Linked DNA regions of Homo sapiens: regions 1, 3, 4, 5 and 6 are each linked to region 2. Evidence: fine-mapped expression QTL. A gene starts in region 2. Each other region holds a variant in brackets. All regions are shown on one strand. Distances are between the middles of the regions.

What was found. PIP is the estimated chance that this variant, and not a neighbour inherited with it, causes the effect.
Region 1: its variant is fine-mapped to the expression of SERPINB9 in whole blood (TOPMed, PIP above 0.99).
Region 3: its variant is fine-mapped to the expression of SERPINB9 in whole blood (TOPMed, PIP 0.91).
Region 4: its variant is fine-mapped to the expression of SERPINB9 in whole blood (TOPMed, PIP above 0.99).
Region 5: its variant is fine-mapped to the expression of SERPINB9 in whole blood (INTERVAL, PIP above 0.99).
Region 6: its variant is fine-mapped to the expression of SERPINB9 in whole blood (INTERVAL, PIP above 0.99). The same link has a PIP of 0.9 or more in visceral fat.

What each region holds. Positions count from the first base shown.
Region 1 is chr6:2,840,412-2,844,500 of GRCh38, forward strand. It overlaps SERPINB1 (serpin family B member 1), which reads right to left and starts at 1,452. Exons shown (of 7, transcript NM_030666.4): 1 at 1,401-1,452; 2 at 8-183. The coding sequence starts at 175. RefSeq lists a silencer at 1,347-1,396. The variant T/C (reference allele first, on the strand shown) is at 2,185.
Region 2 is chr6:2,901,425-2,905,513 of GRCh38, forward strand. SERPINB9 (serpin family B member 9) reads right to left here and starts at 1,885. Exons shown (of 7, transcript NM_004155.6): 1 at 1,777-1,885. RefSeq lists an enhancer at 1,349-1,850 and silencers at 1,561-1,610, 1,851-1,930, 2,031-2,080.
Region 3 is chr6:2,922,575-2,926,663 of GRCh38, forward strand. No RefSeq gene overlaps it. Among named protein-coding and RNA genes, the nearest start is that of SERPINB9, 21 kb to the left of the region's middle. The variant T/C (reference allele first, on the strand shown) is at 2,532.
Region 4 is chr6:2,861,178-2,865,263 of GRCh38, forward strand. It overlaps the pseudogene SERPINB9P1. Among named protein-coding and RNA genes, the nearest start is that of MIR4645, 9.1 kb to the left of the region's middle. RefSeq lists an enhancer at 1,528-1,857. The variant C/T (reference allele first, on the strand shown) is at 2,047.
Region 5 is chr6:2,935,205-2,939,293 of GRCh38, forward strand. No RefSeq gene overlaps it. Among named protein-coding and RNA genes, the nearest start is that of SERPINB9, 34 kb to the left of the region's middle. The variant G/C (reference allele first, on the strand shown) is at 2,506.
Region 6 is chr6:2,855,478-2,859,566 of GRCh38, forward strand. It overlaps the pseudogene SERPINB9P1. Among named protein-coding and RNA genes, the nearest start is that of MIR4645, 3.4 kb to the left of the region's middle. RefSeq lists an enhancer at 3,102-3,681. The variant A/G (reference allele first, on the strand shown) is at 1,623.

The DNA of each region.
Region 1 (4,089 bases), 61 kb before region 2:
TGCTGACCTTGGACAGCTGTGCTGCCGTGTTACCTCTGGTCCCCAGAAAAACCATGGCCATAGCAGATGAAATGCTGAAGGGAGAGATGAAGATGTTTCCAGCCGGATTGTTCTCACTCAACGCCAGGAACAGGTCCAAGGCGAAGCGGGTGTTTGCTGAGCTCAGCTGCTCCATGGTGAAAACTGCAACACAGAACAGGGTCCTCATGGTGCCCACTGCCCACGCCAGCAGATTAGGCAGCACTATTTCTCCAGAAGCTTCCTCAATTTCTGCCAACCGCCCTGAGGCATCCTGGATCTTGTACTTTCTCCCCGCTTTTTTATTCCAGCAGGGCAAGAACACTTTCCCAGGCCCACAAATGTGGGACCATTCTGGCCAAGGACTCAGCAGTTATAGGGGATTTTAGGGCACCCAGGGTGCCCTAAAGGGCTCTGACCTTGCAGACAGGTGAGTCTGGGGGTGGGGCGGGGGTAAGGCAGGCCCCAGCTACCCCAGCTTTAGTGGGGTGGGAGGGCCCACCCAGCCCTGGGTCTTCCCAACCTATGTGTGGGAGCGCACGTGCTTCTGAGCCTTTGATTCAAGTCTCTGATTCATTGGGCAATGAATCCATTGCCTACCTTCACCTGAACTAAGAGCCTTCTATCAGAGACTCAGCTACCTACTATGCATTAAAACTCCAGCAAAGGTATCACTGTAATTATTATAATAATATAATTCTTCCTTATTTTTGAGGTTCAAAAGGTATGAGGTCCAGTGCCCACAGTCTCAGAGCCGGTGTAGGATGTGCCAGTTTGGAAACCCACCACAGTCCAGGGTCTGGCCGTGCAGCGTCCCATCCGCCACCCACTAGCCCATCTCGATCTCCACTCTCAGAGCCCTGATTTCCCCCGAGGACAGGCAAAGAAGAACCGTGCTGGCTGCTCGGCATGTAAGCACAAAGCTGATTTCTCCTTGTTGTGAAATCGTCTCTAGAATCGCACGGGGTTCCTCCTCTCTCTCCCTGCAGCTGCAGATAGGAGCCGCGGCCTGGCCCTGGGCTGCCTGGAAACCGTCACAAACAGCTCTGGGAGGAAGGGAATTCAGGGAGAAGGGACAACATTCTGATCTCAGGTTTCAGTCTTGCCTTCCGCCTGCATCTGTCGTCCTCCCTCCCTCCCTCCCTCGCGGGCTGGCCCGGCCTGTACCCAGGCGGGGGCGGGGGATCAGAGGTCGTCTGTCTCCGTCGGGGCGCCCGGAAGGGATGGGGGCGCGAAGCTGGCGGGGAGGGCGAGCGCAGGGAGCTGCGGGTCTGAGGGGCCTGAGCCTGGGGGGTGGGGGGTGCCGGGCTGGAAGCTGAGCGAGGGAGCCTGGCCTCTCCCCGCGCCCGCCCCCGCGCCACCGCTCCGAGGCCCGGCCTTACCCGACAGGCCGCCGAGGCACGCTCCGGGCTCCGAGCTGGGTGCGAGGTCAGGAAGGAGGCACCGAGGGCCGCTGCTCTTATAGCAGGCGGAAGCGTCACCCGGGCCAGCAGCCGCGGGCGGGGCGGCGGCCCTTCCCGGTGACTGCGTAGGAGTCCGAGCTCCCGAGGTCGCCTAAGTGCAAGCAGAAGTGAGCGTGGCTTCCGGGCAGCGCCCTCCTCAGGGGCGCGGCTTCTTTCTCAGTTCAAAGCCTTTCCCCGAATCTCTGGCAAGGACCTGAAAAGCTTTTTCTTACTAAGGTGTGAATGACTGAGACGACATATTGTGACACCTCTTAGAGGGCAAATGACTCCCTTTGAGTCCCATCTATATTGGGAGCTTTCTTTGAGAGAAGGAAGCAAATTTGGGGATCTTGCACAGGGAAAAAGAGGGGCCCCCAGAATCAGATGAAACAGAACCAGTTCCAAACACCTGCTCTCTGTTTCCAAGATGACAGCTTGCTGCTGCGTCCTCAATGGTGGAAAGTGGAAGGGCAAAAGGGGCCAAATCTCATGTGAAGTCTCTCGTATAAGGGGCCAATCCCATTCATGAGGAAGGTGCCCTCATAATCCAGTCACCTCCTAAAGGCACCACCTGTTAGTATTGCATTGAGGATTGTTTCAGCATGAATTTTGCAGGGAACACAGACATTCAAAGCATAGCATTCTGCCCCTGCCCTCCAAATTCATACCCCTCTCACATGCAAAATGCATGCATTGTATCCCAGTGGCCTCCAAAGTTCCAGTA[T/C]CAACTTTAAAATGTAAGTCCAAAGTCTCACCTAAATATCTTCTAAATTAGAAAGGCATAAGATTCAAAGTACAATTCATCCTAAGTGAAATTCCCCTCCAGCTATGAGCCCGTGAAATCAAATAGGTTACAGGCCTTCAAAATACAGTGATGAGACAGGCATAGGACGTACATTCCCATTCCCAAAGGGAGAAGCAGGCAAGAAGAAAGGAGTATCTGGTCCCAAGTAAGTCCAAACCCAACAAGGCAAACAGCATTAAATCTTGGGGCTTCAGAATAATCTTCTTTGATGCTGTGTCCCCCATTCCGAGCACAGGGGGGTGGAGACTGGGTCCCCTAGTGTCCAGGGGATCCACTCCCATGGATTTGCCAGGTGCAACCCATGCAGCAGCTCTCACAGGTTGAGGTCTAGGCTCTCCCAGGATAGACTTGCATGCTGGTGGCTGGACAGTTCTGGGTTCTCAGGGACAGCCCTGTTCCCACAGCTCCACTAGATATTACTCTATTTGGGGCTCTCTGCAGTGGCCCCAATCCCACTGCTCCACTAAACATTGCCCTAGTGAGGGTTTTCTGCAGCAGCCTCACCTCAGTGACAATTCTCAGACTGGGCCCCCAGGGTCCCCAACACATCCTTCAAAATCTAGGTGGAGGTGGCTGTGTCTCCACAGTTCATGCACTCTGTGCACCTGCAGAGTTAGCATCACGTGGACTCTGCCAAGGCTTACAGGAAGGGTGGCCTGACAAGGGCCTGCATAAGCCACACGTGGGATGGTGGCCAAAGAGTGCTGCACCAGAATGTGGGGGGTGGGGGGGCAGAGACTTGAGGCAGCCCTAGGCAGCAAGCCCCAAGGTTCCATGGTGTCCTGAGTCCTCCCTTAAAACTATTCTGCCCTCAGGGTCCTGGCACTCTGGGACAGGGATGAGAATCCAGAACCAGTAACCTCAGAAATGCCTTTGGGTTCATTCTTCCATTGTCTTGATAAATAGCATCTGGCTTCCTTCTACACATACTCATCTCATTATCAAATGTGAACCTGGCAGCACTCTTGGTGTTCCCTCCCAAACATGCCTTTTCATTCTTTACATGGCCAGGCTGAGAATTTTCCAAAACTTTAAGCTCTGCTTCCCTCTTGATTATAAACTTCGTTTTTAATTCATTCTCTCTGCTCACATTTTACTACAAGCAGTCAAGAGAAGCCATGCTGCACTCTCAACGCTTTGCTCAGAGATTTCTTCCATCAAATATCCTAGTTTATTGCCTTTAAGTTCTGCCATTCAGAAAACACTAGGACATAGACACAATTCAGCCAAGTTCATTGCCACTGTGTAACAAGGATGACCTTTCCTCCAGTTTCCTTTTAAGATCTCATCAAAAGTGTCTTTACCATCTATACTTCTAACCGCATTCTGATCAAGACCAGACCACTTAATTAATCTCTAAGATGATTTAGGCTCTCCCTACAGCTCTCCTTGTCTTCTGAGCCCTCACCCTTAATTTCCCTTAAAGCTCTGTTTATGTCTATACAGGCTTTTTCCAGCATGCATCTCCAAATTCTTCCAGCCTCTACCCATTACTCAGTTTCAAAGCTGTTTCCACATATTTAGGTATTAGTTATAGCAACATCCCATTCTCAGTATCAATTTCTGTCATAGTCCATTTGTGCTGCTATAAATACCTGTGATTGGGCAATTTATTAAAAACAGAAATGTATTGCTCACAGTTCTGGAGGCTGGGAAGTCCAAGAATAAGGCATCCACATATTTGGTGCCTGGTGTGGGCTGCTCTCTGCTTCCAAAATGGCACCTTGTTGCTGCATCCAAGGGGGAAATATACTGTATCTTCACGTGGCGGTGGGAGGGATGGAAAGGGATGAACGCACTCCCTCAAGGGCCCAAATCCCACCC
Region 2 (4,089 bases):
AAAAGCCATGAGTGTAGATTGTGCGTGAGAGGAAGGATCTGATCCCTGCAGAACGCCAGAATGGAAAGGCAAGAAACAGCCCAAGGTGAGGAGTAAAACAGGCGAGAACAAGGAGGTGGTGCCTGTGAAGCCACTGGAGACCAAAGTGTGAATGTGAGGGGGTGGGTCTCTTGGCCACAGGCCTGAAACCAAATGAACCCCCACCCCCAGGCTGCAGTTCCCAGTGCACTTGGAAATGAGACCCTGACTCCTCCAGGTGAGCCTGGGAGACCTCCCTGACTCCTTTCCATCTCCCCCTCCTCCCCCACACCCATCCCCAAGGCCTGCCCTCTACGCCCACATTTCTTCCCACTTCGGATTCTGTGCCTGGTCTAATGCCCAGGCCCCCTCCCGAGCCTCTGGTCTCCCTAGAGCCACTCCCCACTGTCGGGACACCTCATCTGTGCTCCCCAAAACGCCACGCAAAGCGCTGGAGAGCCTTGGACAATGAACACAACCCACTCCCCCAGCCACCCCCACGCCACAGCCACACGGCACCTCAGAAAGCGGTGTCTTAATCCTCTTGTCCTTCCTCCTAAATCTCCCAGGGGCCCTTAGGCCCCTCAAAGGTGGCCGCTCAAAGCCACCTTGTTAAAACGGTGTCTTACCCACCTGCCCCCTCCCTTGATCCAGACTCACTGAGGTCACAGCCTCCACCTCTGGCCATCCTGAACCCCTCCCAAAGTCAACTCTTCACAAACACTGTTGGTCCCCCTTAGAAGGCCCCATGTCCATCACGGCATTAATTCCACTCACCCTCAAACACCGCGGCCCGGAGGCTCTGATTCCCACCCTGGAGGAGGTTCTCTTGACCCCGCCGGCGCGACCCTCCCCAGCACGACCCTTCCTCCCGAAGGTGATTCCTCATCTTGCTGGTGGTCCCCACAGACCGCAGGCTCTGCAGGCGAGCGCTGAGCCTGGCTCTGCAGATTCTCAGGACCCCATTCGTTTAGCTGAATTATTGAAAGAATTAAGATGGATAAGAGTGCTCAGATTTGAAACTCCGAGACTGGTGGCTTTATTTTTTTGTTGTTGTTGGTGGTGGTTTTTTTGTGTTTTTCTTTTTTTTGTTTTGAGACGAAGTCTCACTCTGTCTGCCAGGCTGGAGTGCAGTGGCGCAATCCCAGCTCACTGCAACCTCTGCCTCCCGAGTTGAAGTGATTTTCCTGCCTCAGCACATAGCTGACATTATTACAGGCGTGGGCCACCATGCCCGGCTAATTTCTGTATTTTTAGTAGAGACCGGTTTTCACCACGTTTGCCAGACTGGTCTCGAACTCCTGATCTCCAAGGATCCGACCGCCTTGGCCTCCCAAAGTGCTGGGATTACAGGCGTGAGCCACTGCGCCCGGCCGAGACTGGTGACTGTAAAGGACAGTGAAGAAGCAGGACAGACGTCATCCTGCGGATCCCAGAGCAGAGAAGAGCAGTGAGAACACAGGGCCGGCAGGTGGGGAGGAGGCTGCAGGGGAGGGCTTCGGCCAGGGAAGGGCAGCGAGGAGACATCCGGGAGGGAGGCGTCCGCGGTGGCTGTGGGCCGCCAAGGCGGAGACCGGCTGCCGCTCCCAGGCACCCCCCAGAGACCGTTGCTGACCCCACCGAGAAGGCACCGCCTCCCCGGGGCTCTTGGCTGAGCGACCTCTCCTGTCCTCCGGTCCCATCACTCGGTGGCAGCCGGTGGACCTGAAGCTCGCCACTCCCGTCCCCTACCCCAGCCGTGCGCGGGGACGCCCTCACCTGCCACCTAGTCCAGCGCTGCCGCCGTCTCCGTGCCGCGCTCCGAGCCTGGACGCCGACCCCCGAGGCGCAGGACCCGGCCCTGCTGCTGCGCTCGCCGCGGACTCCCGCTAGGGCCTCTGCAGGCACCGCTTTTATACCGCAGGGTCGGGCGCCTCCCACGCTTTCTGCGTTTAGGCGGAGCCTGGCGGGACCAGCGGGGGCGCCGCGCGTGGTGGCCGAGGTCAGAGCTGGGAGCAGGGTCAGGTCAGGGTCCCCCCAGTCCGCCCCGCCCGGGGCGATGTCCGCCAATGCTCCCGCCAGCCTGAGGCCGGCCAGGTTCCCAAGGCGCGCGCTCGGCCTCACCCACCCCCGGCGCCAGGGCCTCTTCAGGACCGGGTTCAGAACCTGACAGCCCAGAGAAGTAGGTTGGGAGCCTGCGGCGTCCAGGGCCTCCGCGCGAAGAAACAAGGCGTCTGCGGGAAAGGAGACGGAGCCTGGAACCCTGGGCTTTTGTACTTAAGGAAGCGAAGGTCGGGTGACAGCCAAGCTCCGTGTTCCAGTGGGAAGGTCCCATGGGTCTGTGTTCCACGCCTCTTGTCATGAATATGGGGGATTCACTTAGAACCAAAGCATTTGTTCCAGGTCCCACCACTAACTAGTACTAGTCCTGGGCCCAGAACCAGGCGTCCTCACTCCTAGTACCCAAGCCCTTCTCTAGCCACAGGTGTTTGGGCTGCGGTGTGGTGTAAGCAGCCCCATTTTCCCGCAAAGTGATGGGAAGAGACACTGAGTCACACGGGCTCAGGACACTCCTTGTGTCCTCTATCAGGGGGTCCAGAGGCAGGGACTCGGGGGAGTTGATGCAGCAGTTCGTGATGTCATCAGATATCCCCCCACCCCCTTCCATCTCAGGCTGGACTCAATTGGAAGCATTTCATGTTGGCACGGTGACGTCCAGAGGAAGGGAACAGACAAATGGCTCTCTCTGGAGCACGGAGCGTCGCCCAGAAGCCGTGCCCTCCTGTTTCAAATTGACCAGAATTAGAGCTTTCTCCTGAGGGCCTGAATTAGGGAGAAGCAAGGCAGGTGCCTAAGGCACAAAATTTCAGGAGGGCCACACGCATAGGTGCCAACCCTGCATTTGCGCGGCCCTGAGAATCAGAGCCTCCTTCAATTTGACACCCTAGGTGCCTAGCTTGTTTTTAAAAATAAAACCTTTATTAAAAGACAATTCACGGACCATAATATGCATCCTTTTAAAGCATACAATTCAATAGTTCTTGGTATATTGACAAAGCTGTCCAACTCTCACCACTATCTAACTCCAGAAGGTTTTCATCACCCTAAAAGGAACTGTGATACCCATTAGCAATTATTCTCCATTTCCTCCTTCCCACAACCCCTGGCTTCTGGGAGAGGCTCCGACCTCCAGATTTCTTTTCTGGCCCTGCGGATTGACCGACTGTGAAGATTTCATGCAAATTGAATCATACAATATGTGGTCTTTCCTGACTGCCTTCTTTCACTTAGCATAATGTTTTCAAGGGTCATTCTTGATGGTTCCAGGTAGCATTTGTTAGTACTTTATTTCTTTTTATAACTGAATAATACTTATAAAAATATTATAAAATCAAAAGGGAAATTAGAATGTATTTTGAAATTAATAAAAAATGAAAATAAAAACATCAAAATTTGTAGGATGTTATTAAGTCAGCTTTGGGGAAATTTTGCAGCATGAAATGCCTATATTAGGAGAGGAGAAAGGCTTCAAATCAATGACCTCAGTTTCTACCTTCAAAAACTAGAAAAAGTATAAATACATTGAACACATAATCAGTAGAAAAGAAGAAATAATAAAGATTAGAGAATAAATCAATGATATAGAAAACTTTATAATGATAGAGACAATTGATTAAACAAAAAGCTGTTATTTATTTATCCACTTATTTATTTTTTTGAGGTGGAGTCTTGCTCTATCGCCTAGGCTGGAGAACAATGGCGTGATCTTGGCTCACTGCAACCTCCACCTCCCAATTCCAGCGATTCTCCTGCCTCAGCCTCCCAAGTAGCTGGGACTATAGGCATGCATCACCATACCCAGCTAATTTTTGTATTTTTAGTAGAGATGGGGTTTCACCATGTTGGCCAGGCTGGTCACGAACTCCTGACATCAGGTGATCCTCCCGCCTCAGCCTCCCAAAGTGCTGGGATTACAGGCGTGAACCACTGTGCCTGGCCATACCCATGAATTTTAAGGCAACAAATGGGGGCATCGTTGTCAGTGCCATTGCAAGAAAGTGTCTGAGTAAACGTGGACCATGATGGCATAGT
Region 3 (4,089 bases), 21 kb after region 2:
TAATAATCATAATTACTACTGACAATATATACTAAGACATATCTGAATTTGAGGAATCTTATACAATCCTGGAACAAATATTAACGACATATCTATATAAATATAACCCAAAGGAAGCTAAACACCACCTCAGATTTGACAGTGCTTTCTGAATAATTCTAACATAACAAATAAGCCTAAATTGTCTCTCTTGGGCTTCAGAGAATTTAATATTCAAAAAAGTTAGTTTGAGGTCAAAAAGACTGAATTTAGAACTTGAAATTTTGCTCTTAGAAAGTTTGCCAAATATCAGTGTTAAGATACTTGATTATCACAAAATAGAACCACAGGTCACTATAAAATAGTCATTTATTTAGCCAAAATGATAAAACAAAAACATTTACCTTTTGATAGAGAGGAGATTCAGCTTCCCAAACAATAAAACCTAATAAACACAGCATGAGGCCAACGAAATCTGTCTCTCCCCCTCCATTTTTTCGCTTTAGTTTACAAAAAAGGTATACAAAAATCTTTTATCTCTTACTAATATTACACAAATATTTTGTTCAAAAGAGAAAATCAGAATTTTACCTTTGTATGGTGTATTATTAATGTTAAAGCTAATTTTGATAAAACCTTACAAACAAATCTAATTTTAATCATAAGGTAAGATTACCATATACTTTTTATAACCGTTTATGATTTTCTGTTAAAGAACAGATCAATGCTTCAAGAAACCCTGTTATTCAGACATATGGGCCTAGACGCTAGCCTTGCACCAGTGCACTTTTGATATTAATGTTTAATTTACAGAACTAATGTTATCCCTCAAAATTGGCCCTTACAATCCCATAGGCCCACCTCTTCTGCAATAGTCCCTGGGCCTAGAGGGTTGAATAGTTTTAATTTCTGGCCCTGTGTCTCACAAAAGCAGTTCATTTTGATTGTCACCTTCTCCCAGATCTGAGGGTCTGAAGATGAGCCTTTGACAGGTATCAGTGCTCAAAATTTAGCAGGGGTTGGTGTCTTTTTCAGACCCAGGAGTCAAAGACCTGTAACTTAACAGCAGGAGGATTAGTTAAAGGGATATTATTTAGACTATGGAAAGTTCTATCATTCTAACATGTCACAAGTTAAAATATTGTGATTTGGCATTCAGTAGTTGCTGCCTGCACACTCCAAACCACTGTATTAAAGTATTTAGGTTACTCGTTGCGAGTATCTAGTTGCTAGCGTTCTGGTGACAGAACTGTGACCCAAAGCATCCAAAAGTGATGGGGCCTGTACCAAACATATCAAAACAAAACAACTAGCTTTTCTCTCCATCATTAAAAAATGGTAAATGCAAATATCGGTTTTAGAAATTCAATGAGGATAAATAAGCTCCTTTCACTTAAATAGTATACAACAGAGCAAAGACGAGGTAAGAACAAGCACACAGTAATTTCTTTTCAGCTATGTTTAAAGAACATCATCCCATATTTCCAAGATTAGTTCCTAGATACAGTACTGAGAACGAATTAAGTAACTTTCACCACTAAAATCTTCAAACCAGCGCAACACTTGTACATATTTTTTTCATGTACACATATGAAAGCCCATCAGTGATAAACGGCTTGAGATCAAAAATCACTAGAAAGTCTCACATTCTTTATTACTACTTAATCCAAGTGAATGTCAACACAACAAAATAATGGCCAACACAACTACATTTTAATAATGGTCAACACAACTAAATTAGCTTCAGAATAATCCTAAGCAATACAATTTCATTAAGGATACAGCCAATCTTTCCTGAACATTAAAATGTTGTACTCATATCACCGTGTTTCCTCACTACCTAAAGGAAAGATCTGAAACCAACTGAAATTATTGACTGAATTGAATTACCTTGGAAATAAACACCATTTAAACATTTTCATTCTCACCCACTTCTTCAAGTAACAAAATAAATAATGTGCTATTTCTGCTCAGAACTTCCAAAAATTAGTCTTTTATTTTTTTCCTAGGTGCCTTAAAGGTCTTGTAGCTCTCCCCATCATCAAGCAAAACCAACCAAAATTTAAATGGCTGATGTCCTTTATCAATTTTTGGATGCCTGACAAAGGGGCTTAAGAATTTTAGATAAATAAAACAAATGATGAATTGCTGGAAATGCATAGGAAACAAAATGACTATTTATAGAACAAAATAAAAGACTTCCACGGGAAACTTAAAAACATCAATGGTTTTATATATGCATATATATGTAAAACCCAAAGGAGAACAAACAGCAAATAAATGAAAATTAGAAGCAGAAGGAAATAAACAGGAAACCAACCCCAATTGTTCTCCTACTCAGTTTACCTTAGAGGCTAAAGTGTTAACCAGCATCTTAAAGAAACACATAATAGATATTTTGTTCCTGATATACAATTCAATGTATTTAAGTCTATCAATAACATGATATATTTTGTGCAATTAAGACATTCACTTTGGGTATATGACCAGTAATTACTTTGGTGCTAGTACTATCTATGCAGAATTGCAAATATAGTGTGAAGCAGTGCAAA[T/C]GTGTGTGTGAAATTTCGCTCCATGGTAATCTGGCTTCATACTTAACTACATTTAAAAAGAATTGCCAAACTGGCAATGTATTTCTTTATAATATTTCTTATTCTACCTTTATCAAGACTAAGAGCTTTAACTATGAACAATGTCAATTAGCCAAATGTCTTCAATTTTCTATCAGGTTTTAAAGAATATTTTATTATCTAAACTTTCTCAACTTGCTATTTTTTTTTTTTGGTATGTGCATGAAGACAGACACAGAGAAACAGAAAAAATTACATATGATTTACACAGACCATCTATCACATGCTTGGATTTTCTGTTTTGTCCTAAATTTTCTCTCTGTTTTTTAATAATTAGTCATTTTACTTTAGGAAAAAAAATCACCATACAATATCCTTTCTCACACAAAATTATTTTTCTTTATAACCTTCCTTAACAAAAATACATCTTCACATACATAACTTTCTTCCCATCTCTCTTCCCTACTTACTGGTTCCTTACTACGCTTTTCATAAATAACCTTTTCAAGTCCATAATTTGAATTAACCTTTAGATAAGTTCTAAATCTGACAAAATTATTCTTTATCTCACAAGAACACATCTTCTTTGGCACATTTTATATACAGAATTATATATTAACTATAATTCCTATCCTCAGTAACCTTAAATTTTAGTGAAAACCTAGGAAGCAAGAAGTCCTGAGCTGCCTATCAGACATTAGCATTTTATAGATGAGAACCATTTGACAATTTGAAGGGGGCCACCAGCACCCGCCTCTGAGTTCCCTCAGTATTTACTGATCATTATTTTTACTATCTTAGCCAGCGGAGTGTAGCAGGGCAACACGTGGGGAGAAGGTCAGCAGGGAAACATGTGAGCAAAGGAATCTGTATCATGAATAAGTTCAAGGAAAGGTACTGTGCCTGGATGTGCACGTAGGCCAGATTTATCTTTCACTTTACATAAACATCTCAGTGTAGCAAAGAGTAACAGAGCAGCATTGTTGCCAGCTTATCTTGCCTCTAGCCACAGGGTGGTTTTCTCCTATCTCAGAATCGAACGAATGGGAATGGTCGGCTTTACACTGAGACATTCCAATCCCAGGGAGGAGCAGGAGACAGAAGCCTTCCTCTTATCTCAACTGCAAAGAGGCCTCCCTCTTTCACTACTCCTCCTCAGCACAGACCCTTTACCGGTGTGGGCCTGGGGCATGGTAAGGTCTTTCCTTTCCAACAAGGCCATATCTCAGGCTGTCTCAGTGGGGGGAAAGCCAGGCTTTCTTGGGCAGTGGTCCCTGCAGCTTTCTGCAGTGCGTTGTGTCCCCGGTTAATCGAGAATGGAGAATGGCGATGACTTTTACCAAGCATACTGCCTGCAAACATATTGCTCACAAGGCACATCCCACAGAACCCTAAATCCATTAAATTTTGATTCAATATAGCACATGTTTCTGTGAGCACAGGGTTGGGGCTAAAGTTACAGGTTAACAGCATCTCAAAGCAGAAACAATTTTTCTTAGTACCGATCAAGATGGAGTTTCTTATGCCTTCCTTTTCTACA
Region 4 (4,086 bases), 40 kb before region 2:
AGAGAATGAAAGCAGGCTGCCCGAGCCAGCATTGACAACCTGCTCAGATCTCCTTCCAGACTGTGGCAGCTTTTTCTTCTTCTTCTTCTTCTTCTTCTTTCTCTTTTCTTTTCTTTTCTTTTCTTCCCCCTTCTCCTTCTCTTCTTCTCTCTTTCCTCTCCCTTCCTCCCCCTCCCTTCCTCTTTTCTCTCGCTTTGCAATAAATCTTACTGTTGCTCGTTTTGGGTCTACACTGCTTTTGTGAGCTGTAACAGTCACGGTGAAGATCTGCAACTTCACTCCTAAGCACAGTGAAACCATGAGGCCACCAGGAGTGAATTAACAACTCCAGATGCGTTGCCTTAAGAACTGTAACATTCACTACGAAGGTCTGCAGCTTGCCTCCTGAGCCAGCAAGACCGTGAACCCACCAGAAAAAAAAAACTCCAAATACATCTGAACATCAATAAAGGACAGACTCCAGATGTGCCACCTTAAGTGCTATAACACATCATGAGGGTCTGCGGTTTTGTTCTTGAAGTCAGTGAGACCAAAACCCCACCAATTCCCGGTCACAAAAGGGTATAAAGTTTGAATTATGGGTTGAGCATTCTGGCTCACACCTGTAATCTCAGTACTTTGAGTGGCTGAAGTGGAAAGATAAGTTGAACACAGGTGGGGGAGGTAGCAGTGAGCTGAGATCACACCACTGCATTTCAGCCTGCGTGACAGACTACCTCAAAAAGTTTAAGGTACTCAAAGTTAACACATTTTGGAAATCTAAGGTACAGCATGGCTATGAAAGTTCATGAGAATGTATGCTTGAGATGTGCTAAGAGTAGATCCTGAATGTTCTCATCACATACACAAATGATAAGTAAATGTGGAGGATATGTTAATTTGCTTGACTATGGTGATCATTTCACAATGTATCTGTATTTATGGTTTAAATGTTTGTTCCCTCCCAAACTCATGTTGAAATTTAATTACCACTGTAACAGTATTAAGAGGTGAGACCTTTAAGAGGTGATCAGATCATGAGGGCTCTGCCCATATGAATGGATTAATGCATTTATCTGGGGAGTGGATTCCTTATAAAAGGACAATTTGGGCCTTCTTTTGTCTCTCATCCTCTCTTGCCTTCCACCTTCCACCATGGGACGAGGCAGCAAGAAGGCCTTCACCAGATGCCAGACCCTCAATCTTGGATTCCCTGCCTCCAGAACTGTGAGGAAATAAATTTCTGTTCTTTATAAATTACCTAGTCTGTGGTATTCTGTTATAGCAGCACAAAATGGACTAAGACATATATCAAAACATCACATTGTACATTGCAAATGTATACAATTTTTGTTTGTCAACTATACCTCAAGAAAGCTAGAAAAAATCAAATAGTCAAATGGATCTAAAGTGTTTCTAAGTAGCAAAAGTGCTTTACACATCTATTTTGTTACCATGTTCTATGTCATATTGAAGGTGGGCTTGCCTTTCCACCTTTGGAGTGGATCATAAAGTCCTTGAAGAATGGTCTTCCCACAGTATTCAGCACACAGGAGTACCCAAGACATTTGTGTAGAGTTCCTCTGAATTAAAGCTGATGTCAACAACACTTCAGATGTCACCAGAGGGTAGGCAGGGCTGCAGAGTCACCCACCTTCAAGGATGATGCTCCAGTCATACCCAATGTGAAAGGTGTCCCCTGGAGCCATGCAAACAAATGAGGTGGCCCCAAGAACAGGATCCTAACATCTCAGGAAGTCAGTCGGCCTTGCTTGGCCACAACTTGAGTTGCACTTAATTTTTAAACTACCATTAATCCCCCAAAACAGGTGGTGAGAAGGTATTTTATATATGAGTGTAACGGCTTTGTTCTCATTCTAAAAGAAAGCAGATGTTATTCAAATCAGATGACCACAACCAGATGACGGAAAGGGGAAGGCAAAATGTTTTAACTTATTAAAAATATAAACTTGACTCAGAATACTCACATGATTCAGCTAAAGAGAAAATCATCTCTGGTGTTTAGGCACTCATTTGCATTTAAAAACCCAAAAGGAATCATTGTGA[C/T]GAATTGTTGATATTAATATTTGTATTAACTGTCTAGGGCTGCCATACATAACAAAGTACTTTAGGCTGGGCAGCTTAAACAACAGAAAGGTATTTATTGTCTCATTTCTGAGGGCTGAAAGTCTAAGATCAAGGTGTCAGTAAGGTGGGTTCCTTCTTGGGACTCAGAGGGAGAATATGTTCCAGGCCTCCCTCCTTAACTTGCAGATGGCCCTCCTCTCTCTATAGCTCTTTAGTGTTTTCCCTCTGTATGTGTCCGTGTCCAAATTAACCCTTTTATAAGGACGCCAGTCATATTGGGTGACCTAATGACCTCATTTTGCCTTAATTACCCCTGTAAAAACCCTGTCTCCAAATACAGTCACATTCCAAGATACTGGAGGTTAGGAATTTAACATATGAATTGAGGGGAGTGAAGAACAACCCAATCCAGCCCATGACAGTGTCCTAGTGTTTCAAGACAGTTTCTGCACAGATAGACATGGAGACATCGTTCTATCCTTACCTTGCTGATTTTAAGACTCCCTACCCCACACACAAGTTGCTGCTGTTGTTTATTTAATAAAACTGTGTAGATCACTTTCCTTTGAAACACTGATGCACAGCTGTGGAAGGTGGGGTATCTGGGATTACATGCCGACATCCAACCTCGCTGGACCTATCCGGCCCCAGGCATTGCACCAAGGACTGAGATACACTCGTGGATTTAATCATCCAAACACATCTCCTAGGAGGAAGGCCATACATGATCCCCCCAGGCTGAGGCTTCTTAAGGCTCCCCAAGGGGAGGTGGACTTGACACACTGAATACAGGATCACTCCCAGTTGCCCAAAGAGTTTACAGGGCAGAATTACCTTTTCATCTTTATATCCCCAGGGCCTGGGCCAAAGTCAACATTCCTACATGTTTGTTAAACTAAGCTGAACTGGAAGAAACTGCTCCAAATACCAGTGGATTCTTTGGCCGCCATGCCCTGAGCTATGTAAGGCATATGCCTCCTCCATCATTTAGTAAGAGATAACTAAAGAAATGTTTGGGCTGGGTGCAGTGGCTCACACCTGTAATCCCAACACTTTGGGAGGCCGAGGCGGGTGAATCACTTGAGGACAGGAGTTTGAGACCAGCCTGGCCAACATGGTGAAACCCCGTCTCTACTAAAAATACACAAAAAAATTAACTGGGCGTGGTGGTGCATGACTGTAATCCCAGTTACTCGGGAGGCTGAGGCAGGAGAATTGCTTGATCCCAGAAGCCGGAGGTTGCAGTGAGCCCACTCTGTCTCAAAAAAAAAAAAAAAAAAAAAAAAGAAAAGAAATCATTTGCTGATGACTATTGTTCTAAAGTTTTTTGTTTTTTGTCTCCCAGAATAATTAAAAATTGATTGCTTTTCCTTACCTAATAATTTTCTTATCTACCACATACCAATTTATATGTAGTAGAAATAGTTGTGGAAATAAATTTCTGTCCTTTATAAAGTACAATGCTGTTAACAACAGAAAACATAAAAATTAAAGACCCCACCCTCTGTCGCTTTCACCACCTAAGCAATTGTGTGTGTTGCAGGGACACCGCTGCAGCCTCTGCAAAGGACGGCCCCTCTGGCTTGGCCTGATACAATTTCTGGCAAGATTCTTTAAAGTTTTGGGGGAAAGACCCATCCTTCTTATGCCTTCATAGGAATGAGAATTGTATTCATTGCCACAATCTTTCTTGTTTCTCCATAGTCAACAACTTTTCTGAGAAATGAAAACCCTAAAAATTGTCCTGATGAGAGAGTCAGCTACCAACAATCCCAGAGTGTTGAGAAGAGAGGGCAACAGCAGCAACGGACCAGGCATAACCAAATGGAGACGGGGCAGCCTGTTGTGGGGAGGGTCAGTCGTAAAATAATCGGCCCATTTGTCCATTGTATTCCATGACCAGATTTTAAGCTCCTTGAAGATGGGATTCTGTCGTGATTTTGTGACCCCCCTCCCTTCACCTTGCAACACGTAGGATAGAACTCACTGAGCATTTGTCTCTGAAGAAGAAAGGAATCT
Region 5 (4,089 bases), 34 kb after region 2:
CATAATTTGCAGGGCCCATTGCAAAATGAAAATGCAGGATCCTCTGTTCGAAAACTACAAATAATTTCAAACTGATGACAGTAAAACATCCATCCAAGTGTGTATCCCTGTGAATGTGGAGCCCTGCATGCTGCATAGGTCACACAGGACCTATGGTCAACAGACAAGAGTCAATTGACCATGATAGTAATTTTACATTTATTGACAATAAAGTGCAATTTATAAAAATTTTCTTAATAAGATCCTATTGAAAAATACCTTATTGAGGAAAAATACCAGTGATGTTTGATAAGAGGTAGATTCAGTTAAGAAATGAATTACAGTGTATGAATGTGCACCAAGAATAATGTCTTAGTGAGCTTAGGCTCCCATACAAAATACCATAGACCAGGCAGCTCAAACAACAGAAATGTATTTGCTCACAGTTCTGGAGGCCCCAAAGTCGAAGATCAGGATGCCAGTGAGAGGTGACAGCATGCTGGCAGCCCTCGCTTGCTCTCCCTGCCTCCTTGGCCTCGGCGCCCATTCTGGCTACGCTTGAGGAGCCCTTCTCTGGGCTGGCTGAGGCCGGAGCCAGCTCCCTCGGCTTGCGGGGAGGTGTGGAGGGAGAGGCACGGGTGGGAACCGGGGCTGCGCACAGCGCTTGCGGGCCAGCTAGAGTTCCGGGTGGGCGTGGGGTTGGCGGGCCCGCACTCGGAGCCGCCGGCCGGCCCTACCTGCCCCAGGTAGTGAGGGGCTTAGCACCCAGGCCAACAGCTGCGGAGGGTGTGCTGGGTTCCCCAGCACTGCTGGCCCACCGGCGCTGTGCTCGATTTCTCACCGGGCCTTAGCTACCTTCTTGCGGGGTAGGGCTTGGGACCTGCAGCCCACCATGCCTAAGTCTCCCCCGCGTTACCGCCGCCGCCGTGGGCTCCCGCGCAGCCTGAGCCTCCCCAACGAGCACCGCCCCCTGCTCCAGGGCACCCGGTCCCATCAACCGCCCAAGGACTGAGAAGTGCGGGCGCACGGCATGGGATGGGCAGGTAGCTCCACCCACGGCCCCAGTGCGAGATCCACTAGGTGAAGCCAGCTGGGCTGCTGAGTCTATTAGGGACTTGGAAAATCTTTATGTCTAGCTAAGGGATTGTGAATACACCAATCGGCACTCTGTATCTAGCTCAAGTTTTGTAAATGCACCAATCAGCACTCTGTGTCTAGCTGATCTGGTGGAGACTTGGAGAATCTTTCTGTCTAGCTAAGGGATTGTAAATACACCAATCGGCACTCTGTATTCTAGTTAATCTGGGGGGACTTGGAGAATCTTTATGTCTAGCTAAGGGATTGTGAATACACCAATCAGCACTCTTAATCTAACTCGAGGTTTGTAAATGCACCAATCAGCACTCTGTGTCTAGCTGATCTGGTGGGGACTTGGAGAACCTTCATGTCTAGCTAAGGGATTGTGAATACACCAATCGGCACTCTGTATCTAGCTCAAGGTTTGGAAATGCACCGATCAGTACCCTGTGTCTAGCTCAAGATTTGTAAATGCACCAATCAGTGCTCTGTGTCTAGCTAATCTAGTGGGTACTTGGAAAACTTTTGTGTCTAGCTCAGGGATTGTAAACGCACCAATCAGCACCCTGGCAAAACGGACCAATCAGCTCTCTGTAAAACAGACCAGTCAGCTTTCTGTAAAATGGACCAATCAGCAAGATGTGGGTGGGGCCAGATAAGGGAATAAAAGCAGGCTGTCGGAGTTAGCCGTGGTATGTTTGCTGAGATCTGCTTCAATGTAGTGAAAATGGTTATTCTTCTTGCTTTTTTTTTTTTTTTTCTCTTTTTTTCAGTAAATGTGCTGTTTTTCGGTTTTGTTTCCTGTATGAGCTGTAACATTCTTTGTAAAGCTCTGTGGTTTTGTTTTTGAAGGTATGAAAATAGAACCAACCCATTTGTAGAGTTAAACAACTATCAGGAGCGTATGGCGTTATGTAGTTTATGACACTCACTGAATGTTTTAGAGCTTTACTCTTGAGCCGATGAGATCGCTAAGCCCACCATGAAAGAAGTAAAGGGAGGACATACCGCTTTAAAGAACTTGTAACACCACACGGGTCTGTGGCTTCATTCCCGAAGTCAGTAAGACCAATGAACCCACCAGCACAGTGTTTTTGGTGATGGTTGTTTTTAGCAACCTTAACTGTAAAAATTTCTCGTTTAAAATCATGAATTACGTGTTAAGGTTTCAACGTATGAATTTGTGGAGGGGGCTGGGCACAATTCACTGCATAGCAAATAACTGTACTTTGAGAATAACGTATATTTAAAGTTTAAATTGTGAATTTTAAAAATTCAATTTGATCTTTTCCAAACATTTTTAAAGAACGATTTGACAGTCTTAGGTCCTCTAATAAAAATCACTTGCAGTGAATTTTTAAAAAATGGACAAGTAATAGTTGTGTAGACTTTTGCAATGTTATGTTTTGATACATGCTTACATGGTAGTGAAACTGGGCAAGTTCCCTT[G/C]TTCCTCTCGGGATGTGTGATGGGGCTGATGGCTCACTTTAGTGCCCTGCTGCTCCAACTTTTAGGAGAGAATACAGACAGGTAGGCTGTGGGGCTCCAACCCTTTTGCAGTGTCTAGGGCTGAATGTTTACAACTCCTGAAGCTCCACTGGGCATGTGTTAGAGTGCTTTTTTAGTTTAGCTATCCATAGGTGGCTTGTGTTAACCAGTTCAATCAGACCCCTACCTTATCGCAAGGACAGAGGGCTTTCTGTATCCTGGGGTTCCTGCCTTGGTGTACCAGAAGAATCGGATCACATGTGGGCTTGGAGAATGAGTGCAAGGTAAGTCTGGCAACCTGGGCTCTCCTTCAACTGCCCCCGTCAAACTGCGTTGTTCTGCCGGTGGATGGCCTGCCTGCATGCCGGTGCCTGCTGGTGCATCCCATTCCTCTCAACTTCCAGCCGCTCGTGTGTTCCTCCACTGATGTACTCCTCTCGATATGCAGCCACCTGTGTGTCTGCCTGCTAGCGTCTCAGGGTTTTACAGGCACAGGGTAGGGGCGTGGCAGGCCAGGGTGGTCTTGAGAAGTGCAACATTGGGGCAGGAAAACAAAAATGCCTGTCCTCAACTAGGTCCGTGGGCACAGGCCCAGGGTTGGAGCCCTAGCCAGGGACCACGCCCTTCCCCCCCCCGCCATGTTATTTAAAGAGAGCACACCCTTCCATATCAGTGGAATGGCTAAAACAAGCTAATTCCCATACGCATTACCTCATCTATTTTTTTTGTGATGAGAATGTCAGAGTAGGCGGTTAGACGTGAGCAGGGCATGCACGGGCCCCCAAGAATGTTGGACATTTGTCAAGCCACAGTCACAATTATAAATCTGTCCCTCTGAAATAATGAGCAAGACAAGGAAGGGACCCCAGAGCTGTCTGGTTCTCATTGGGACCGGGATTGAAGGGCATAAAACTATCCCTCTAGGGTAATAAGTGGCCATGGCTGGCGCTGGGAATAACAGGAGTCTTGCAACAGACAGAAGACACCTGGAGTTAGCAAGGCAGTCCCAGACAAGGTTTTGAGCATGTGCAGTAATAGAAAGGTGTGAAATTTACCCGGTGTATGACTTTCCTCTAGGGGCGCTCGACCAGTAAGGGAGAATTGCATCTAATGGGCATGCGCACAACTTCAGTAACCATCCAGCGCCTACTGGGAGGGCTACTGGGCATGCAATACTTGAGGGCCAGCCCGGGAGGTGAAGAACAAAGAGTGGAGACAGCCTGGAAAAGAGTAAGGGGTATAAAAACTGTAAGCAGGCCTGGGGTGGTGGCTCACGCCTGTAGTTCCAGCACTTTGGGAGGCTGAGGCAGGTGGATCATGAAGTCAGGAGATCAAGACCATCCTGGTTTACATGGTGAAACCCTGTCTCTACTAAAAATACAAAAAATCAGCCAGGCGTGGTGGCAAGCACCTGTAGTCCCAGCTACTCGGGAGGCTGAGGCAGGAGAATCGCTTGAACCCTGGAGACAAAGGTTGCAGTCAGCTGAGATTGTACCACTGCACTCCAGCCTGGGCAATAGAGCGAGACTCCGTCCAAAAAAAAAA
Region 6 (4,089 bases), 46 kb before region 2:
CTTGGACAGGGACGGCTCTATCTCTTGGGTGATATTCTGGAAAAGTCAGTCTTGACTTAGTCAAAGGCATCGGTAATTCCCCAACAGCTGAGAGCAGACTCCATGCTGCGGTTTTCTTGTAACTTGAATCGAGGAGACTTCCACATCTTTGCTATCCATTGCGCCTGGCTTTGTCCACTCGCTGACTTCTTCATATATAAGCTCATTTTCCACCTGGAAGAAAAGAGGAGAGAGCCTTAGGGCCCCAGCATTGGGTCCGCACCGAGGCCTACACTGCTCCCCCCATTCCCACCTAGGACCATGGCATCCCAGTCCTCTCTCCCTGTGGGAGGCTTTCACAGAGGTTCACATGGGCCCAGGCCACTATGATTTTCTGAGTCTCCTTGTTTAATAAAGAAAATGAAGTGCCAAATATTGTGGTATGTTTTAAAATTTTGTATTTAACAAGTGATCTTTCAAAAATGCAATGCAATCTAATTGCGCTATTCCGAAGTTAAGCATAGGATTTAGAAAACATTCTTATGGCATTTCTTTCATGGAACATGAGCTTAACTTTTATCATTAAAGTAATTTCTGTCCGTCTTTTCAGTGTATCTGTCTCTGTGACTCTAAGTATAGTAAGATTACTAGGAAATAATTTCAACATTTTAACTTTGAGGCCCTATGTGAGGCCCAAGATAAGCCCCACGCACCCCCATTCCCAGCCACAGGCTCTGCTGCCTGGCACCTCAAGGTCTGGACCCTGTACAGGGCTCCCACATGTCGACACAAGCTCCCATGTGTCACCTGTGCCTAGTAGAGAGGTGTATATTGCAACAAAAACTACAAATCAAAACAGGGCTGCAGCTCAAGAATCTTCAAGTTTCCTGTACCCCACCACTGGTTTAAGACAAGGATCAAGTTCATTTCAAGTAACTTATTAGTTACTAGTTAGTAATTGGTGGTAATTTCTTTTTTTTCTTTTTTTTTTAGATGGAGTCTCACCCTGTTGCCCAGGCTGGAGTGCAGTGGCACGATCTTGGCTCACTGCAAGCTCCACCTCCCGAGTTCAAGCCATTCTCCTGCCTCAGCCTCCCCAAGTATCTGGGACTACAGGTGCCTGCCACCATGCCTGGCTAATTTTTGTATTTCTAGTAGAGACAGGGTTTCAGCATGTTGGCCAGGCTGGTCTCGAACTCCTGACCTAAGGTGATCCACCCACCTTGGCCTCCCAAAGTGCTGAGATTACAGGCGTGAGCCACTGTACCCAGCCGATAATTTCATAGATTATCAGCTACCCTGCACATATTCATGTATTGCTTGTCAGTTGACAGGAAAGAGTCTTATCTTATTGGCCAAGAATTTAGCCGGCATCTTTGATCCCATCAGCAGTTTTGCACTTGATATTTGAGGAGTTTCAAAATGCTAGGAGGCTTTGATATTTTCTTTCACCTCAAAACGAAAATGAAACATGGTCCAAAAAGTTTGCGCTAAGACCAAATGGCCAGTGCAATTTGTACAAAGAGTTAACACTGTCCTTTTGGATTTTCAGAAAAAGAGCAAGTAACCTTTATGGAGACTGAAACCATAGCCATTTCCATGGAAGGTTGGGGCAAGAAGCCCTATTTTCAATTTGCTCACAC[A/G]GAGGCTCTTCATGGGAAGGCCAGACTGCCATGGATGAAACATACAGCGGGGATGTATCCGAACACCGTCTCCTGGCCTGTGAAACAGACCAAGAAGTCCCCTTGGAGTTAGAGGGGCCTCTGTGAGCCCTGAGAGATGCTGCAGCCCAAGGAAGACATGGGAGGAGGCACTAAGCAGTGTCCCAGGAAGTCACATAAAGAAAACATCATTGGCTGCGCTGCTGCAAATCTGTGTCTGGGAGTTTGGGCCAGGGTGAGAGGGTCGCAGGCTCTGGGCGAGGTTTAGGAAGCAGGAAAGAGGAGTGGACCCGCTGGAAGCCAGAGGACAAGGTGGACGGGGTACAAGGAAAGGGGTCCGCCAAGGGCAGCCTGGGAGGACCCTCCTTGATCATGAAAAAAATGAGCAAACGGACACAAATGTCTTTTCAAAAAAGATGCCAAAGGTTGGCCTCAGCAAAGTCCCCTGAAGCATCCCCTTCTTGCTTTCCCTGAGAAGCTAGATTCTGCGTGTGGGGTGGGGCATCCGGACTTGGTGGCTTTCCTTCTGAGCTTTCCCCACCTGAGTCATCTGCAAAGGGCAAGGCTGCAGGCGGGAGAGGCCGGTGTGATGTGACCGCCAGCCACGGTCCCCACACCCCTCTCTGAGGGCTGTCCCCTCCACCTCATGCCATGACAGGAAACTTTATGACCTGTTCACTAAAAAATCACTTAAGGATTGGAAAGCACCTGTCTATAAATAAAGGCAAGGGGGCTGCCATTTTAAAATTGGGGGTGAGACTGGTCGTGTGCTCTCGAGTGGGCGGGGACTTACAGTAACTCAGAGGCAGGGCAGTTCAGGAGCTGTACATGAGCAGAGGCCCGGGTGCTTGGAGGCCGGCCAGCGTTGGTGGGCCTTCCTGAGGACAGGGTATTTGAGACATACAACAACAGACATAAGCAAGGTTATGATAAAGCTGCAAACCGTTTTCCTGTTTTCATGGGGGCGTAAAGCTAAAGCAGCACTGAATTAACTCTCGAAGTGGGAGGAGAGATCACTGTTGAGGCGGGAGAGGGGATATGGAAAAGTCTGCGTTAGGACTCAGCTGTGTCTGCCGCCAAGGCAAGGGTAACTAATAGATAACAGGCCTTAAGAATTGCTATCTTTGCTCCTCTTCCTGTCTCCCCCTCTCCCTCCCCCTCCCCCTTCCACCCTGTTTCTCCCTTCCTCTCACCCCCTCTCTGCTTCCTGTACTTTTTTTTTTTTTTTTTTTGAGCCAGAGGCTTGCTTTGTTTCCCAGCCTGGAGTGCAGTGGCGGGATCTGGGCTCACTGCGACCTCTGCCTCCCGGGTTCAAGCAATTCTCCTGCCTCAGCCTCCCGAGTAGCTGGGATTACAGGCACACGCAACCATGCCTGGCTAATTTTTGTAATGTTAGTAGAGATGGGGTTTCACCATATTGGTCAGGCTGGTCTTGATCTCTTGACCTTGTGATCTGCCCACCCCAGCCTCCCAAAGTGCTGGGATTACAGGCATAAGCCACCATGCCTGGTCTCTTCTTTCTTTCATCTGGCTTCTAGAAAAAGAAAGTTCTGCCTCAAGGCCTGGGAAAAATAGTTTGGTTTCATTTTGTTTTTCTCCAGCTGACAGTGGTTCTCTGAGTGAATGCCCCTTTCTCATGGCCCCACCTCTGTTTGACCCACCCTACCTCTTCCCCACACCCAAACCAGCCTCCTTCTGCTGCCAGATCATCCTCGGAGCCAGAGATCCCCGCTGGTTTGGACAATAAACATTTGTTGTGCACTTTCTATTACAGTGCCAAATATCAGGTTAGGTTCTGGGGAGATGAGAAAGGATTAAGCAGTGTCCCAGCCTCCAAGGAGATCATGTGACTCCACTGATCATAAATGATGGCCCTGGAAAAAGTTCCAACTCCTCTTCAGTATGGCTCCAGCTGAATGGCTCTGTCCCCTGCCCCTTCTCTGTCTGGGCTGGTCCCTCTGGTAACTGTCTTATGGGTCTTCTCCCTCCACACCGTCGCTCATGCAGGCCCTTCAGTGTAGTACAGCCTCACAGATGCTCAGCTCAGCAGCCCTTTGCTTGAGCTTTTGGGTTTAACCTCCATCCTCTTCCTGTTGTCTGTATCTCTGCGTCATCAAACATCTAAATTTAAGTCTCCTATCTGTGTGATCTTAGACAAGTGTCTAGTGTCAAGTGTCTAGTGGACAAAGGTTTCTAAACCTTTGTCCTCCATTCCTCATTTGTGAAAGGAAGGTAATGGCTTCCGCTTTGTCCATGGCTTAGAGTTGTTCTAAAAATCAAATAACATGATAAATAAATTTAAAAAAAAACAAGTAAGATAACAAGGGCTGGTCCAGATGTGGAGGAAGGGAACACCTGCACACTGTTGCTGGGAATTTAAATTAGTACAAGCATTCAGGGAAACAGTATGGAAGTCCCGCAAAAAATTAAAAATAGAATTACCGTATGA